2 separate regions of the Homo sapiens genome follow, and region 2 is linked to region 1. A link means that fine-mapping ties the variant in region 1 to the expression of a gene that starts in the linked region. Tissue or cell type: sun-exposed skin. Region 1 holds a variant in brackets; the other region holds the start of a gene. All regions are shown on one strand. Distances are between the middles of the regions.

Region 1 (8,183 bases):
TTGACATGGTGCTGGAGACCCAAAATCATGATCCCGCATCACCAGCAGAATTAAATTCAAATTTTCCCTCTTATACCCAACTCTCCACAGTCACCTTACTCTCTTTAAATATTTTAGTGAGTCTCCCATGACTCTAGAAATGCTTATATTCCAAGCACACCTGACAGCTCATTGCTCAGATTACTTTTCTTAAATGAGATGGGGTAGAAACAGATGTTTGCTCTTTCCCAATAAATTGCTACATATTCTGACTTCTGTGTCCCTGTTTACTTGTTCCTTCCATGGAATGTACACCCTCCACTCCAACACCCTGACTCTAGCCATCCTCGAACATCTATGTAACAACATCTTTATCAGTTTCAGAAATCGTTTCAGAAATCGTTCTGATAACCTGACCGGTGTTCACACAGAGCTCCAGAACAAGACCAAGCTGACGGTGCTGGAAGGAGACATTCTGGATGAGTCATGCCTGAAGAGAGCCTGCCAGGACATGTCGGTCATCATCCACACCACCTCCATCATAGACATCATCGGTGTCACTCACAGAGAGTCCATCATGAACATCAATGTGAAACGTACAGTAGCCTGGGGAGGAGATGAAGCAAGGTGGGGAATTAAGGATCACAAAGAAGGACAGGAAGGGAAAAGAAGTCTCTCCACTGAACACCTGCTATGCTCTGGACCAAGTGTCTTTGCTGATCACTACCAACTGGGGGAGTTCAAAGCTGCTATCTTCAGTTTTTTACATGAGGAAACCAGTGCTACAGATGGCAAGTAACTTGTCCAAGGCCCCCCCAGGTAAGTAAGTAAATAGGAGAGTTAGACTTTAAACTCACCCCTGTGTGACTCCAAAGGCTGTGGACACTCTTTCTATAGTGGCTTCAATCAAAAGTCAACTAAATTCCAACTTCAGACTCTTGATATCCCTCTATGGGACAGAATCAAACCTTCCAGGTGCCACCATAGTCATCATTGTGCTACACACAAGTCACCTTGTGCGTAGGCTTATGATAATGAAATGGGAAAAATTCCCTCATCCCCCTCACCAGGCATGCAATGAGGGTGTGGCTTGCTTCTTCAATGCCTCACTGCTCAAACCTCTGTGGGAGCATAGAGACAGGCAGGCTGTGGGACTCCGACACCATAGCAGTGTCTGGGGTGAATGTTTACAGCTCCTGAAGCCTCAGTGGGTGTGTGTTACATGGTGCTCTTTTAGTCTTGCTCTTTTAGTTTTGACATCTACAGGCGGCTTGTTTTAACCAGCTAAATTAGACCCTCTACCTTGTCGGAAGGTCAGAGGGCTTTCTGTATCCTGGGTTCTTGTTTTGGTTACCAGAGAAATTAGATCACACCTGGGCTTGGAGAATGAGTGCCAGGTTTTGTTGAGTGAAGGTAGCTCTCAGCAGCTGGGGGATGCCAGAAGGGGAGGGTTTTCCCATGGAGTTGGCCGTTCAACTGCCCAACTCTTCTCCGACCATCCCAGGGAAACTCCACATCATTCTGCTGGGCGGTGTGTTCCTCCCAACGTCCAGCTGCCCATGTGTTCCTCTGCTGATGTGTGCCTCCACTGATGTGCCCCTCCTGACATCCAGCCCCTTCTATCTTCTTCTGCCAATCTGCTCCTCTCATTGTCAGGCAGTTTGTGTGTGTCCTGCTAGGGTCTTGGGGGTTTTATAGGCAGAGAATTGGGGCATGGCAGGCCAGGGTGGTCTTGGGAAATGCAACATTTGGGCAGAAAATGTTTGTCCTCATCTAGGTCCCTGGGAGTAGAGCCATAGCCAGGGACCACACCCTCCTTCACCCAGCACTTCCCTTCCCCCCTCCCATATCATTTAAAGGGACCATGCTCTTCCCTTCCCAGCACTCCCATATCAAGAACATTCAGAGCCCTCCTGCCCACCTCAAAGAAGTTCTCTCGAGAGAATTAGTAAAGTTGGTCCACAGAGGTCTGTCAGGACTGAATTATCCAGCACATGCTTTCTCACAATATTTTCTTAAGAAAAAGGGTTTCCCAGTGTCCAGAATACACAGTCTCTTCAGCTCGCCACAGGGCCTGCTATTACAGAGCCATTCCCAGCCAGGTGTCCAACATGCACCTTCATTCAATCCTCATCCCTTAAAGTCTTGGTGGTCTTTCCGAATTGCAGCTTTCCAAACTACTTTAAATTCAGACACATTCCCTTAAGGAATCTCGTCATGCAGTCTCACCCTCTGATTCCCAGAGCCCAGTCTCTTCAGCACCACAGCACCCCACCACTGGCCTAGCCCTCCACATTCAGTCTACTCTGACACCTTTTCTAAAGCAACTAATTGCTTTTGGGTCTCCAGCACCATCTCAAAAAAAAAAAACCTTTCCAGTTTCTACTTACGCATACCTTTAAGTACCTCTACAGTGTGAGGAGGGTGTTAAGAGTAACCAGTGTTTCATTTGAATTATTAACTCTCCACAGCTCCCAACAACAAGAAAGGTAAAATGACAGGGGAAGTGTTAGAGGCATCTGTTTCCTAAACCATTATCACTCCAAGACTTAGAAAATATTTCACAATGTTGGTCATTTCCCCCTTGAAGGTAAACTACTTCCGCATTTTCTCTGCCACCAGATTAATTGTTGAAAACATGAGGCTGTCTCTCCAGAAACTCAAATTCCACAGAGACTTTAAACAGGGCCAAGAATAAAAAAAAATAAGAAAAAATAATAATCCTTTGCCTAGGAAATTCCTTCCTTCTTCAAGGGAAGGCACTCCGAACACCTCCATGAGCTACACTTCCACACAGCTCAGGGGAGGCGGCAAGGTCCTCCCAGTACAGGTGTTACCAGCAGAGGGCACACTCCTCTCCCCAGTCCTCCACCAGGCTCCACAGGAAACGCCAGGGCAGGGTTTAAAGGAAGGTTTATCACCCCGACTTTACATAACCAGGTAAACAGAGTCACAGCCAGAATTGGAAGCAGCTTTCCCAGGGAATGCACAATCAGGAAAAGAGTGTGGGTTTCCAGCATCTCCCCACAAGCCACTGTTCGCTCAATGACTCCAGGAATGGTCCTGGTGACAAAGTTTTACCAGTCCACTCAAAATGAGAAAAATACCAGCAATTGCATGTATATTCAACAGTATATTTAAGAGTGTATATTGCTTATATACAACTGTATATGGGTGTCTGTGTGTGTGATGTAAATTCTTCTACTGCCCTTTTTTGCCAAAGAACCAGGACTGTCCATATTCTCAGAGTATATCTTCCTGATTTTTTAGTTTTTCAATAATCTGCCTTTAATGGTATTGATGTCACATTATAATTTTCAACATCCTTACTTGGCAAAATATAAAGTGATAACCCTAGGTCCTTTGCCAAAATTAAACTACACACACACACACACACACAAAAACACACACACACATCCAAACACCCAAAAGTCTAGAAATTCTTGCTCTCCAGAATCCATATGTCAGTTTCTTTTCATTTTGGTGTTTTTCCTATGGCTGTAGCATGGCCCAGTCTCAGTCAGAGCCACAAAAGAATGTACC[T/C]GAGTCTGTTATAACCACTGCACTTGGGAGTGGAGATATGTGCACGTGGTTGGGGCCCCTTAGGGATATTTCCTGACACTGACAGAATGCTTTTCGTTGGTAGGTACCCAGCTTCTGTTGGAGGCCTGTGTCCAAGCTACAGTGCCAGTCTTCATCTACACCAGTACCCCAGAGGTAGCCGGGCCCAATTCCTACAAGGAAATCATCCAGAACAGTCACGAAGAAGAGCCTCTGGAAAACACATGGTACGCTCCATACCCACACAGCAAAAAGCTTGCTGAGAAGGCTGTGCTGGCGGCTAATGGGTGGACTCTGAAAAACGGTGGCACCTTGTACACTTGTGCCTTAAGACCAATGTTTATCTATGGGGAAGGAAGCCCAATCCTTTCTGCCGGTATAAATGAGGCCCTAAACAACCATGGGATCCTGTCAAGTTTCAGCAAGTTCTCCAGAGTCAACCCAGTCTATATTGGAAACATGGCCTGGGCCCACATTCTGGCCTTGAGGCCCTGCGGGAGCCCAAGAAGGCCCCAAGTGTCCGAGGACAGTTCTACTACATCTCAGATGACATGCCTCACCAAAGCTATGATAACCTTAATTACATCCTGAGCAAAGAGTTCGGCCTCTGCCTTGATTCTAGATGGAGCCTTCCTTTATCTCTGATGTACTGGATTGGCTTCCTGCTGGAAATAGTGAGCTTCCTGCTGAGGCCAATTTACACCTATCGACACCCTTCAACCACCACAGAGTGACATTGTCAAATAGCGTGTTCACCTTCTCTTACAAGAAGGCTCAGCAAGATCTGGCATATAAGCCACTTTACAGCTGGGAGGAAGCCAAGAAGAATGTACCTGAGTCTGTTAGAACCGTGGAGTGGGTTTCCCTTGTGGACTGGCACAAGGAGACCGTGAAGTCCAAGACTCAGCGATTTAAGGATGACAGAGATGTGCATGTGGGTATTGTTAGGTGATGTCATCAAGCTCCATCCTCCTGGCTTCATACAGAAGGTGACAATGGCACAAGCCCAGGTCCTGTTGTCTCCCTTTCACACAATGCCCAACTTATTGTCTTCCTCATGTCATCAAAACCTGCCCATTCCCTGGCTCAACCAGGAGCTTTCTGTCCTAATCATATACCAGAGGAAATACAATGTGATTTGCTTTTTCCAAATCTCAGTGGCTCATTCTGAACAATTGTGGTCTCTCTCTCTTTTTTTTTTTTTCCTTTGAGACAGAGTCTGGCTCTGTCCCCCAGGCTGGAGTGCAGTGGCGCAATCTCTGCTCACTGCAAGCTCCGCCTCCCAGGTTCACACCATTCTCCTGCCTCAGCCCCCCCGAGCAGCTGGGACTACAGGCACCTGCCACCACGCCCAGCTAATTTTTTGTATTTTTAGTAGAGACGGGGTTTCACCGTGTTAGCCAGGATGGTATCAATCTCCTGACCTCGTGGTCTGCCTGCCTCGGCCTCCCAAAGTGCTGGGATTACAGGCGTGAGCCACCGCGCCCGGCTTGTGGTCTCTTTTAACTTGAGGGTCGCTTTTAACTACTAGAGCTCCATTTCTCCTCTTAAATGAGAAAGGATTTCATTTCTTTTCTTTTAAATCTCCTATTTCTTCACGCAGTTCAATGTAAAGAGCAATAAATGTTTTAATGCCTAACCTGGAGGGAGGCGTGGTTTCTGTTAATACATACTTTCCTTGTTCCTTTTCATTTCCAGGTATCACCATCTTTTACCTAGGAGAGTAGCATGGAGCTGGGGATGAGGGGTGGGCAGAGTAGTGGGAGGGTCAGGAAGGGCGATGAAGACTGAATAAGCTCTACTATGTTTCAGGCGTGTACAACATGACCTACATATGACATATATTCCCTCACTGAATACTCATCAGAAACCTATCACGAGGGGTGACTATTCCCATTTTACCGGTGAGGAAACTTGTTCACAGTCACACTAACTGATTAATGGCTAGGCCTTCTAAAAGGCAGTTGACCTTGAAAGTCCTTATCTTTCCACGGAATCACACAGCCTGAACTGGTCTTGTCAGTGGTACAGCAGAACACTGGAGCATGGGGTGCTGATACTTTGGAGGGCCCCAGCTTTTTTGGGTTACCTCTTTCTTGCCCAGTCGCACGCAGGGGATTCTCTAGAACCCAGGAGAATCCCTGAGGGGCATCTGAAAGAGATTGCACGCCTTTCCTAATGGCCCCGAGCAGGGCTGAAAGAAACAAAAACGCATTCAGCCTCTACCAGCTTCGGTGCCAATTTCCTAGAAGGTCTCTAGAACACTCCTGGCTATATGTGTGTTGGCCATTCTGATCATACATAACCCTGCATTTCACCCTTTCAAATCACACAATGAGCCACACCATGGGTTCCTGGGCAAGTAAAGAAAACAAGTGTGAACTTCTCCCAAAATATACCTTCTACTCAGCCCAAAATTAGAAGTCTATTATCCCACATCCCCAGATTTAACTGCCTCTCTCTCTCCTTTCTCCTCTTCTTTAAATCACATACTTTCTTCCTTTATTCTTCCATATCCTTAGGCTCTTTCTTCCCTCCATCTCCTCTTTAATCACTGGTTCTCTCATTCTTCTCAATTTCCCTGAAGAGAGGAGGCCAATCAAGACAAGTTTGGGGACTTCAGTGATGACACAGTCATTAACCAATCAATGAAAACACACTCAAAAGAAACACTGTCAGGGGCGTCAGGGACAGAGTTGAACTGAAGCAGGTGAGGAGGTTGCTATGGGTCCAGAGTGTGGAGATGGAAGCTGTCTCCCTCTGGACCTTTGTGTATCACAGCCATGATGAGAGTCACATCCAACATCAAAATGACTTCTTTCTTACACAGGAAATTTACAGATCATTAATCAGTTGAATTTGATTACCACAATGGAGTTAGTTTCAGTGTTCATTCTGAAGAGAAAAGGGAACCACATTCTGGCCCAGATGAACAGGTTTCCACCACCTTCAAAACCCCAAGGAACAGATGATCAGCACTAGCATCAGGGGCGAGTGGCTCCAGGCAGTGGGGTAAGGTGAAAAATGCAACACCCCTCCTTCCCCAGCCACCGCACAAAATGCAAGAGCCAGCATCTCTCCAGCTCTTGTAAGGCGTGCGCACGATCCATATGTTAATGCCAAGTACCACGGGAATCAACGGAGGGTGGTGGAATCAGGGACAAGAGCCCTTCCCCTGGTTTTTCAGCCTAGTGAAACCCTACACTTAGGAAACCACCAGGGCAATTTTCACAGGGAAATGAAGGAAAATGACAGATCTCCGACGGGCAGCGAGGGGAGTTCAAAGAAAGAGACGAGGGGGCCGGATGAGTCAACAGTCTCAACTGAACAAGCACAAACGCCTCGCAGTGTTGTGGCCAACAAAATTTGCCATCCCTTCTTACACCTGAGAGTGCCAAGCAGGTAAAGCTCCTGCACCAAGCCCCGCTGCACCTCACGTGGTGCACCACACGGGGGCAGCAAAGGCTAAGAGGGAAGAACAAGGAAGCCTGACCTGGCCGGGATTTTTGGGTCCTTTTTCTCCACCTGGGTGGCTCTGCAGGGTACCTGACAAAGGATTGAATAAAAGCACAGGCAAATGCTCAACCACCGGCTTAAGGGCTAGGTGTATATGAGTACTGAGAATGGAGCTGAGCCGAAGTCACTGGGAAAAGCCACAGGAGCCAGTGGGGCTTGAATGAGGCCTTGAATTCCTCAGTCCAGGCAGTGGGCACAGACCGAGCAGTGGTGCAGAGGAGGATGGAGGGGCATGAGGAGGCCCCTCGCCTTCTGGAAAGCATGTACAGAGGGCAGATGAGAGAGCTCGGGTGCCAGACTAAGCCACAGACTAGACAGGCAGGTTCCAAGGGCCAGGATGGGCCAGAGCCTGTGATGGACTGGTGAGAACCGGCAGGAAAGTGACCATTATGATGTGAAATCCCGTGATTTCTAAATATTAGTGACTAACTCTAAATTTGAAAAAGCAGTGTGAAGATCTGCTCCAGGAGAGGGATGTGTGGGCTAGTGTTCCAACTGTATGTGCAATAATTTATATCTTAAAAAGTGGGTGGCGAGGTGTCAGCAGCAAATCTATTCATTCTTGGCGATAAGTCCCAAATATACATTATTATATCATACTCTCAGCTTTCCTGTATGTTTAACATAGGTTATAATTTTTTAATAAATTAAATTTGGTGGGGAACAAATATGCAAACTAAGAAAACACACTCACAGCCTGGCCCCAGGATTAAGGCCTCCGATTTTCCACTTCTGCTCCCAGTCTAGTGGTCCAGTGCGGGAGATAAAATAGGAGACGTGTTAGGTGCAGTGCACAGTAAATGTGAAGAGTGCCATAAGAAAGGAAAATGCTTCCGGGAGATCCATTCCCATAGGGGATTCATGGAGTCCTTGCATTTGGGCTAAATATCAGAAGATGGGTAGGATTTCAACAGACAGGAATGTGAGGGAAAGTATTCCAGGTGGAGACAATGGAGTCTGCAAAGACCCAGGTGGGAAAGGGGTCACTTTTAGGGAACAATGAGACCAGACCAGAGAGCACCACGCCAAGGCAGAAATGGAAGATACACCTGGAAAGACATGATGGGCACACACAGGATCACCCGGGGCCACCCCTGGAGACGACCTGCCTGCTTCCTTCACTGACC
Region 2 (8,183 bases), 40 kb after region 1:
ATTTCTATATGCTACATTTTAATCCTCATAGATTGCTTGGGCTATAAAAATAAAAATGGCATGGTAAATGTCTGGCTATAGCAGGACAGTCTTCGTAGTGCTGCTTTTCCAATGAGCACTTTGCACCTTCATAATTGAATGGAAACAGTTACCTTCTTCAGTCTAGGACAATGACAAAAATTGTTGATTATTTGCTTGGGATTAATCCACTCCATATTCTGCCTGAGAGTTTAAAATGTAGGCTGGCAAATAACTTATTCAACAAACTTTTTGTGAATGTCCTTGTACTAGACACTGTGATAGGTACTTTTAGGGTCTCTTAACCCAGGAGCAAAAGGAAAAGCCTCAGTCTGACATGTCCTAGGTGCTTTATTTTCACAATTGCAATGAATCATCACAGGTCTATGAGAAAGGCTCCATCCCATTTTCTAAAGAAAAGGCAAGATAATTAAGATTTTTTTTATCCTTTCACTCCTTCTTTGATTTATTCATGTTTTCAAATCAAACATCCTTTGGGCACTTGTTAGATATTAACACCTAAAGCAGGTGTCATTGAAATAATACAAATTACCAAGGGGTAAGATTAATTTTGACTGTAAAGTTTGGGAAGAGTTCTGTAAGGGAGCTAATCAGCTGGGCCAGGATATGTACAAAAATAATTAGGGACAGGTACAGGGATGTCCAGCAAGCATGGGGTTCAACCGGACAGTCACGGAGGTAGAAGAATGTCTGTTGCATCTTCAAGGACTGGGGAGCTATTTGCTCGAAGGATGGGTAGGTAAATTGGGGTGGCACAGGTCCAGTAAAGGAGAGGGGTAGGTAGGCACTGAATTGTGAAGAATTTTAAATCCCAAAGTAAGGAGTTACTTTTGTTGATTATATTAACTCTACATAGTGTGTGGTACTGAGAAACCTGTTAAGGGGCAGGTGAAAGAAAAGAAAAAAGAAGTAGAATCTTAGATACAAAGAAAAGCCCATATGGTACTGACATAGGTTCAAGCTCCAGACCTCTTACTGACACTGTAGCTATTTTTTTCTTTCTACATAAGCAGACAAGCTCCTTCTTGCCTTAGTTTATCATCCTTACAACCAACCTTTACCCTTTCTCCTTCCCTTCACAGGACACTAGTAATTAGGCAAAAAATGTAGATTCTGAGGAAATTCAAAGAGTTTTGGTGGGGGAGGGAGAGGAAATGTGATGCAACTCCATGAGCCTTAGTCATGCTGCTGATGTGAGGTCACTATTTACCACTTCAATCCAGCCGCATCAATCCAGCCGGTTCTTCTGTCTGACTAGCATCCATTTACCCCTCTATCCCAGTAGTTCTGAAAAGCCATCTATGTGTTCCTTTGTGTAATGTAAAGGGCAGCCTGACTTCATATTTATGATCTTGTTCAATAGGATGCCATCTTATTCTCTGTTGGGCATGGCTGAACTTTTGACATCAACTTTCCCTTAACAACAACCCCCACTTCCAACACACACACACACACACACACACACACACACACACACACACGGCCAATATGTTCTAACTAGAAATCATCTAAATTCACAGAGCCTCTTCCCTTCACTTCATTATCCTCATGGCCTCATCCTAAACAACTCGGTTTTTTTTCTCGATTCCATTCTTTATCTCAGTTCAAATGCCTCATCTCTCCCAAAGAAGCTAAGGAAGAAATGTTTTGTTTCACCTCGAAAGCCATTTATATCAGGCTCAGGGCTCTCTCCATGTCCTACAGCATCATTCTTTCGACCATGAGCCTTGCATACTCCTGCCTGGCCATATAAGTGGCATTCTTAAAGGTTCATTTGGTTCCTCAAACGTATTCCACATTAAATAATATCCACATGTTGGCTTGTTGAGAGAAGAAGGTAAACAGTTGGGGGCATCAACAAAAAATCAGGTGAGGGGAGAAAGGAGAGATAGTGAGTGTGGCCCCTTAGGCATGCTGAGTTCAGTTACAACAGTCACACTTGGACTGTATTCAAAGTTGCCCACTCATCCACCACAGCTACTCAAAGACATTTAACTCGCTAGCCATTATCCAACCGCATTTACCAGACGCTCAGTCTTGAGGGAGGAGGGTAACGCAGTAGGGGATGCGGAGTATTGGTGTCATCCTACAGGTTAAGGACAAACATGCCCACTACAAGGACAGGGATACATCACCAACTTCAATTCAGCCCAGGGTTCATGTAGTAAGGGGTGGGTGATTCACTCCTGTGGGGGAGGCAGGGCGGGGGCGGTTGGGGGAGGCGGTTAGGAAAAAGGAAAATCGTGGAAAGTCCCAGAGGAAGTGGTAGTCAGTTCCCGATGCATGGCCATAATGTACATTGGCCATAAGGTACACTCAGCGCCTCTGTGTCGCTGCTCCCCCTCAACCTTTTACTCACCCACTCCTCCCAACACGCGCCTCACCCGTGCCTCCATGCACAATCCTGAGCCTCGGCATCCCCGCGAGGTGCAGGTTCCAGCTTTGCCCACCACCCCACCACCTACCTACATGGACACGTGTGGTTGGAATGCCTCCCGGGGCTAGACGGCCACCCCTCTTGGGCTGCGAGCTGCTGCCCATCTCTCCACCCACCCGTCCTTATTGTGTCATTTGCCCGGTCTGATGGCAGCCCCAAAGCCGCTCATTTGAGTGGGCTAGAATGGAGAAGAGAGGAAAAGGGAGGCACACATTTCATTCACTAGGACCCAAGATGACCTGCCGCCTCTCTCCTGCCCTTCTCGGAGCCCCCCACCCTCCCTTAGCCCCAGTGGGGCTGGAGGCACGAACAGACAAGGCAAGGGGAGCGCAGTCCGTCAAGGTCCACAGCTGCACACAAAGCCCTTCACCTTCTCCTTGCCTTCCAAGCTCCTCCCTGGGCTTGGTTTCTCCGAGGGTCTCTGATGCCCCCTTCGGTGGTCGGCGGGACGGTCCTATTCCCTCTTGCATCGCTGTCTCCTCCCTCAAGTCTCAGCCTCCTCCTCCCCGCCCCTCGCCACATACCCCTGAGGGAGCTCAGTCCTGGCTTTGGGGGCGCGAGAGCACCCCATAAGCCCGGGGCCCTGCGCCCCAGGGGAGCGGACAACGGTCCACTTTACGAGGCACAACTTCGCCCAGCCGTTCCGCCACCGCACTCGAACACACACCCCATCCCCGCAGCGGTCGGGTCTGGTCCCGATCAGCCCCATCCCCGGGAGGCGGTTGAGCCCAGCCACAGCCACGCTCCTACCTGCGAGGCGGCTGGCGCGGCGAGGAGCTAGGGCACCGAGCGCCCCGGCCCGAGCCCCGCACCGCAGCGCGTCTGCCCTTGTGCGGCGGCGGCGGCTGCAGCGGCCGCTGGGTGGCCCGCTGGCTGGCTGGTTGGCTGGCTGGCTGGCTGGCTGGCTGGCTGGCTCGCTGGCTGGCTGCCCGGCTGACTCCTCACTGGGGCTTCCTGTAGGGCTGGACAAAGGACATTTCCTGGGAGGAGCGGGAGAATGTTCCCAGCATGCCTCGATTTGTAGTTCCCGGGGACTTCCTGCCACCGCAGCAGCGGGCGCCCTGGAGGTAGCTCGGGCCAGGCTAGGACTCCGGGACAGGAGGAAAGGCGCTCGCTGCTTCTCTAAGCGCTGTGGGGAAGGGAGCGGCCGGCGGGTCTTGCCCCACGCCCCGCCCCGCGGCGCTCAAGGAGCCCGCTGTCCCGGAGCACGCGAGATCCCAGCGCTGCACTCCGAGCTCGCGGCACCGGTTGCGGGCAGCCGGTGGGACGCTGCCGCTGAGCTGTCCCATGGTTCGGGAGGGCTCTGCGGTGGGAGAGGCCTTTTCTTTAAAAACTGGGAAGTTTGTGGTGGGTTCGCTTTTTAAAAATTAATCTAAAAACACAAAATCTATCTTTTAAAATAGATTTTCTTTTTGTCTTTTACGCCGTTGACATCCTGCTGGGGGCCGATTAAAGAACTTGATTGCTCACCAGGAATTCAGGTTCCTTAAGATCTTGGCGCTTCATCTTTAAAACCATACAGAGCTGATTGTTTCCAGATCCCGACCCGGTGACATTCCTCCCTCATTGTTGACCTTGTCCCAAACATCTTTTCAAGAAAAGCAATTAAATTGAGATTGAAAATAAATTACGTAAATTAAATATTAGACGTGAAAACCTGTGTGCTGCTGAATTAGGAAAGTGCTGGACTTTCTGCGTATCTTTCCTTCATTAACCTTTAGGATTCAGCTTCTTGGTCCCATAAAACAGATGTGCTGGCCACTGTATATTGAGTGTGTGTATTTCGGGAGTGGAAGGGTGAGGAGAAGAGGACATTGGCTACAAGAGAGGAACTCTACTTCCAGCCTAGCAAGAGTCTATGATGCCCTGCACATGTTTTTGTCTATTTCTGGGACCACAGACTCAGGACCCTTAGAAAATCAAGGAAGGACCACATAGAGACTAAATGACTAAAAGCTATATTCTCTCCTGGAGCATGAGCAGAAAGTAATAAACTGAACTAGGAAAGGACAAGTTCTAGGATGCTCTAGAATGTGTTTGAAAAGTAATCAGATAGAAAAGTCTCTGGGAGGCCGGGCGCGGTGGCTCACGCCTGTAATCCCAGCACTTTGGGAGGCCGAGGCGGGCGTACTACGAGGTCAGGAGATGGAGACCATCCTGGCTAATACGGTGAAACCCCGTCTCTACTAAAAAAAAAAACACCAAAAATTAGCCGGGCGTGGTGGCGGGCACCTGTAGTCCCAGCTACTCGGGAGGCTGAGGCAGGAGACTGGAATGAACCTGGGAGGCAGACCTTGCAGTGAGCTGAGATCATGTCAGTGCACTCCAGCCTGGGCAACAAAGTGAGACTCCGTCTCAAAAAAAAAAAAGAAAGAAAGAAAGAAAAGTCTCTGGGCTTGGTGGCTCATGCCTGTAATCACAGCACTTTGGGAGGCCGAAGTGGGAGGGTCACTTGAGCCCAGGAGTTCAAGACCAGCCTGGGCAACACAGTGAGACCCTGTTTCTACGAAAAGTAAAATAAAATAAATAGCGGGTGTGGTGGCGCGTACCTGTAGTCCCAGCTACTCGGTCGTTTAAGTGGAAGGGTCGTTTGAGACTGGGAGTTTGAGGCTGCAGTGAACCGTGATTGCACTCCAGCCTGGGTGACAGATTGAGACTCTGTTTCAAAAAATAAGGTCATAATTACGTGTCACTTCCACTTGTCATTTCACATTTTAAATCCATATGATTAAAACATTTGGGTGAAGGGTTTAGCTTACATTTAAGTAAAGTTTATGCTAGAGTTCTCTTTCTCTAGAGATCCTTAACCTCACGGATAAGATGGCCTGGATTAAAATGTAGAATTGATGAGAAGCATGCAGATAGGACTGTTCACCTCCCAAAAGTTCCTGTTGTATGCCCACCCTAAAGGTCCTGCTGTATGCCCACTCTGTTGACTGTCCACCTAAATTAATTGTGCTGTGATCCTTGCATTTTCTGGACCCTACAAATTACTGCTCCTTCATATTCTCAACCTGGTAACATTCCAGTGAAACTAATCTCCCCATCTCCACCCCAAAGAATTGATTATTGTTTTGCAAATCAAGTAGCCTCTAATAGTGTTCAGTCTGAAAAACATGATATACTTGCTTGTAGCATTTAACATATAACATTGCCCATTGAAACTATTTTTTGCCTTGCTTTTAATACAACACACTCTCCTCCTTCTCCTACACTTCTAACTTGAGCTCAGAATAATTGAACTTTCACTCATTATTTCACGCCATTCCAAACCTGTCCCATCCTTTTGTTTCCAATCTCAGTTATTTTGTTACTTCAACAAAGTTTTGTTTAACATTTATTCATGCTAGTCTCCATGTCTGGAGTAGACATGTAACATTCAACAGTAAGATATTTTACTGAGTAACTACCAGCTATGTCTTACCCCCAAGAAGCCCACACTCCAGTTGAAAAGACAGATGTCACAAAATTACTTCACAGTGTTTAAGGGCTATAATGCTGCCTTATACTGGGGTTCGTGTTCTGTAAAAGTGGGGCTCTTTCCATAAGCCTTCTGTTCCAGTGAGTGGCAGGAGTGGACAGGAGTGGCCAGAGGAAGGCTTGGGAGGGAGGAAATACAGACGGTAAAGAAGACATGTAGTATGTGAAATTTGGTTCTGAACAGGGTGGTAGCTGAGAAGGAAGTCGGATCAAAGGACATTCTTCTGTTTGTAGGGGTTTTATTTGTTCGGTTTTTAAGATGAGAGAGCCTTGAGGATGTTTAAATGCTGATGAGAAAAGTCTTGGAGAGAAACAAAGGGTAACAAAGAGGAACGAAAGAGGATAAGGGATTCTTATTCAACAAATACTTGTTGAATTAACTAATTCCTGCAACTTAGTGTTGAAAATGTTGAGATTGAAATGACCAAACTGCATATTCCCAGCTAAGATACGCAGAGTCTGAGACCAGAAGGAAATGGCATTTCTTTCCTCCTTGTCATATGCTCTCTCCTGCCCTTGAGGCCCTCAGGGGAAGGTGACAGACAAGTGAATGAAAGGAGAGAATGGAGGCTTCCTCCACTGTTGAAGATTAAGTCTTTTCCAAGTTGACAATAGGTTGGAAAGGCACACCACAACTTCAGGAAAGTCCAAACTTTCAAGCCTGTGGATTTTCATTTCATCTTTAAACTAAAAAAAATTTTACCCTTGCCCTTTTCTTTTTCTTCTTCACCACTTTGAGGCAAAGTAAATAATGATTCTCATCCTCATCTTTCAGAGAGTTGAGTCTGGACAGATTTGCTTACATTTTTTTAAGCTTTCAAGTATAAAATGGATGGACCTCTGTTGTTTTTCTTAACCTAGCAAGCATCCCTTTCCCTTTTTTTGGTAACAGCACCTTTGAGAAAAAACCCCATTTCCACCCTTAGGTCTTGTGGTTTAGAGAAGGGCAGAGCCCATCTTCACCTCCACTTCATTGGCAGGTAGTGATCAAGACCCGCCAATTAGCCAATTCAGTGTTGTATGAGGGATAAGCTATTAAAGGAAACAAAGCTGAGAAAAGGGGTGTGGGAAGGGATGTATGCATAAGCAAATTTTTATGACTTGTTTGATCATGCCTGAAGCCAAGGTACCCTTAGACTTTTTAGTTACATGAGCCAAAACATTCCCTTCTGGGCTTAAGCTATTTTGGGTTAAGTTCTATCTCTTGCAGCCAAAAGAGTTCTATATAGCTGGAAGTGGGATGCTGTAGTGCAGATCCTTAAATGTAAAATTGGCTGAGTTGAGAAATGGTGAAAGTAGGAAAGATCCCTCTGTGCCAGGCTAGAGAACTGGAAATTCTTGTGATATGGTAGCCAGGAAACTGAGTGAGAGGTCTCAGACCCCAGCATTTCCAGGGTGGAGTTTGAGAGGTCTTGATTGACAAATGTCAGGGTTTTAGAGAGTTTGGTCTACTTATAGTTTTTATAAATGTTCCAAAGAAAAAGCCATGCTAATGTTGAAACTGGCCTATGTAGTAGCAGAGAGGAAAAAATTACAGTGTGATTAAAAGATTCCCCTTCTACCAGTAGCCAGCAAACCCAAATGGTCTGGAGTCAGATATATTGAGCCATGCCACGTTAGAAAACTAAAATCCTCTGCCTCTTACACAGTGACAGCAAAGGCATAAGTAAAAAACTGATAATAGACTGTCTCCTGAGTCTACATCAAACTCCTCCTGCTGTGCTGTTCCTGCCAGAGGAAGGGAAGAATTAACCCCATTTTAATTGGGTGACCATATCATTTCTTATCAAAATGGGACAATTCTGAGTGTGAGTATGGGTGCTATTAATAATTATACCTAGGTGACAGCTCTAAAGCAGGTCACCCTAATTAAAGAGCTATCTACTAGGACACCATCTTGCATCAAAAGGCCACTCCATTAGTCCTCCTCATCTGCAGATAGTTATTTCAAGTTGCCCTAGGCAGAGGCCAAGATGGTGGCTGTTAAACTGAAGACTGTTAAAATGAGTCATCTCTAAGGCTTTTCCTTAAAAGACAGAAACTCCCAGGACAGGGTCTAGAGCGTAGATAGACTCCATACCTCTGAAATACAAGAGAAGGCGGGGGGTGGCTAAAACAATTCGGTCCCAAGAACGGGAATCCTTCTCAATTCCCTTTACAGTTGTGATCATGGAGGAAAATAGTCAACAGGAATCCTTTCTGAGAGTAAAGCTGAAGGTAGCTAAAT

Direction of the effects. Positions count from the first base shown, and alleles are read on the strand shown. Sizes are in standard deviations (SD) of each study's normalised expression.
For the expression in sun-exposed skin of the gene that starts at base 3,422 in region 2, T is the high allele of the variant in region 1 and C is the other (small effect, 0.20 SD a copy in GTEx).

The links. PIP is the estimated chance that this variant, and not a neighbour inherited with it, causes the effect.
Region 2: it holds the start of ZNF697, and the variant in region 1 is fine-mapped to the expression of ZNF697 in sun-exposed skin (GTEx, PIP 0.98).

The regions. Positions count from the first base shown.
Region 1 is chr1:119,604,804-119,612,986 of GRCh38, forward strand. It overlaps the pseudogene HSD3BP5. Among named protein-coding and RNA genes, the nearest start is that of LINC00622, 9.6 kb to the left of the region's middle. RefSeq lists an enhancer at 1-1,109. The variant T/C (reference allele first, on the strand shown) is at 3,523.
Region 2 is chr1:119,644,845-119,653,027 of GRCh38, forward strand. It overlaps ZNF697 (zinc finger protein 697), which reads right to left and starts at 3,422. Exons shown (of 3, transcript NM_001080470.2): 1 at 2,847-3,422. LOC124904389 (a long non-coding RNA gene) reads left to right here and starts at 3,472. Exons shown (of 2, transcript XR_007066506.1): 1 at 3,472-3,543; 2 at 3,880-4,132. RefSeq lists silencers at 2,839-3,002, 3,300-3,359 and enhancers at 3,418-4,258, 3,430-3,499.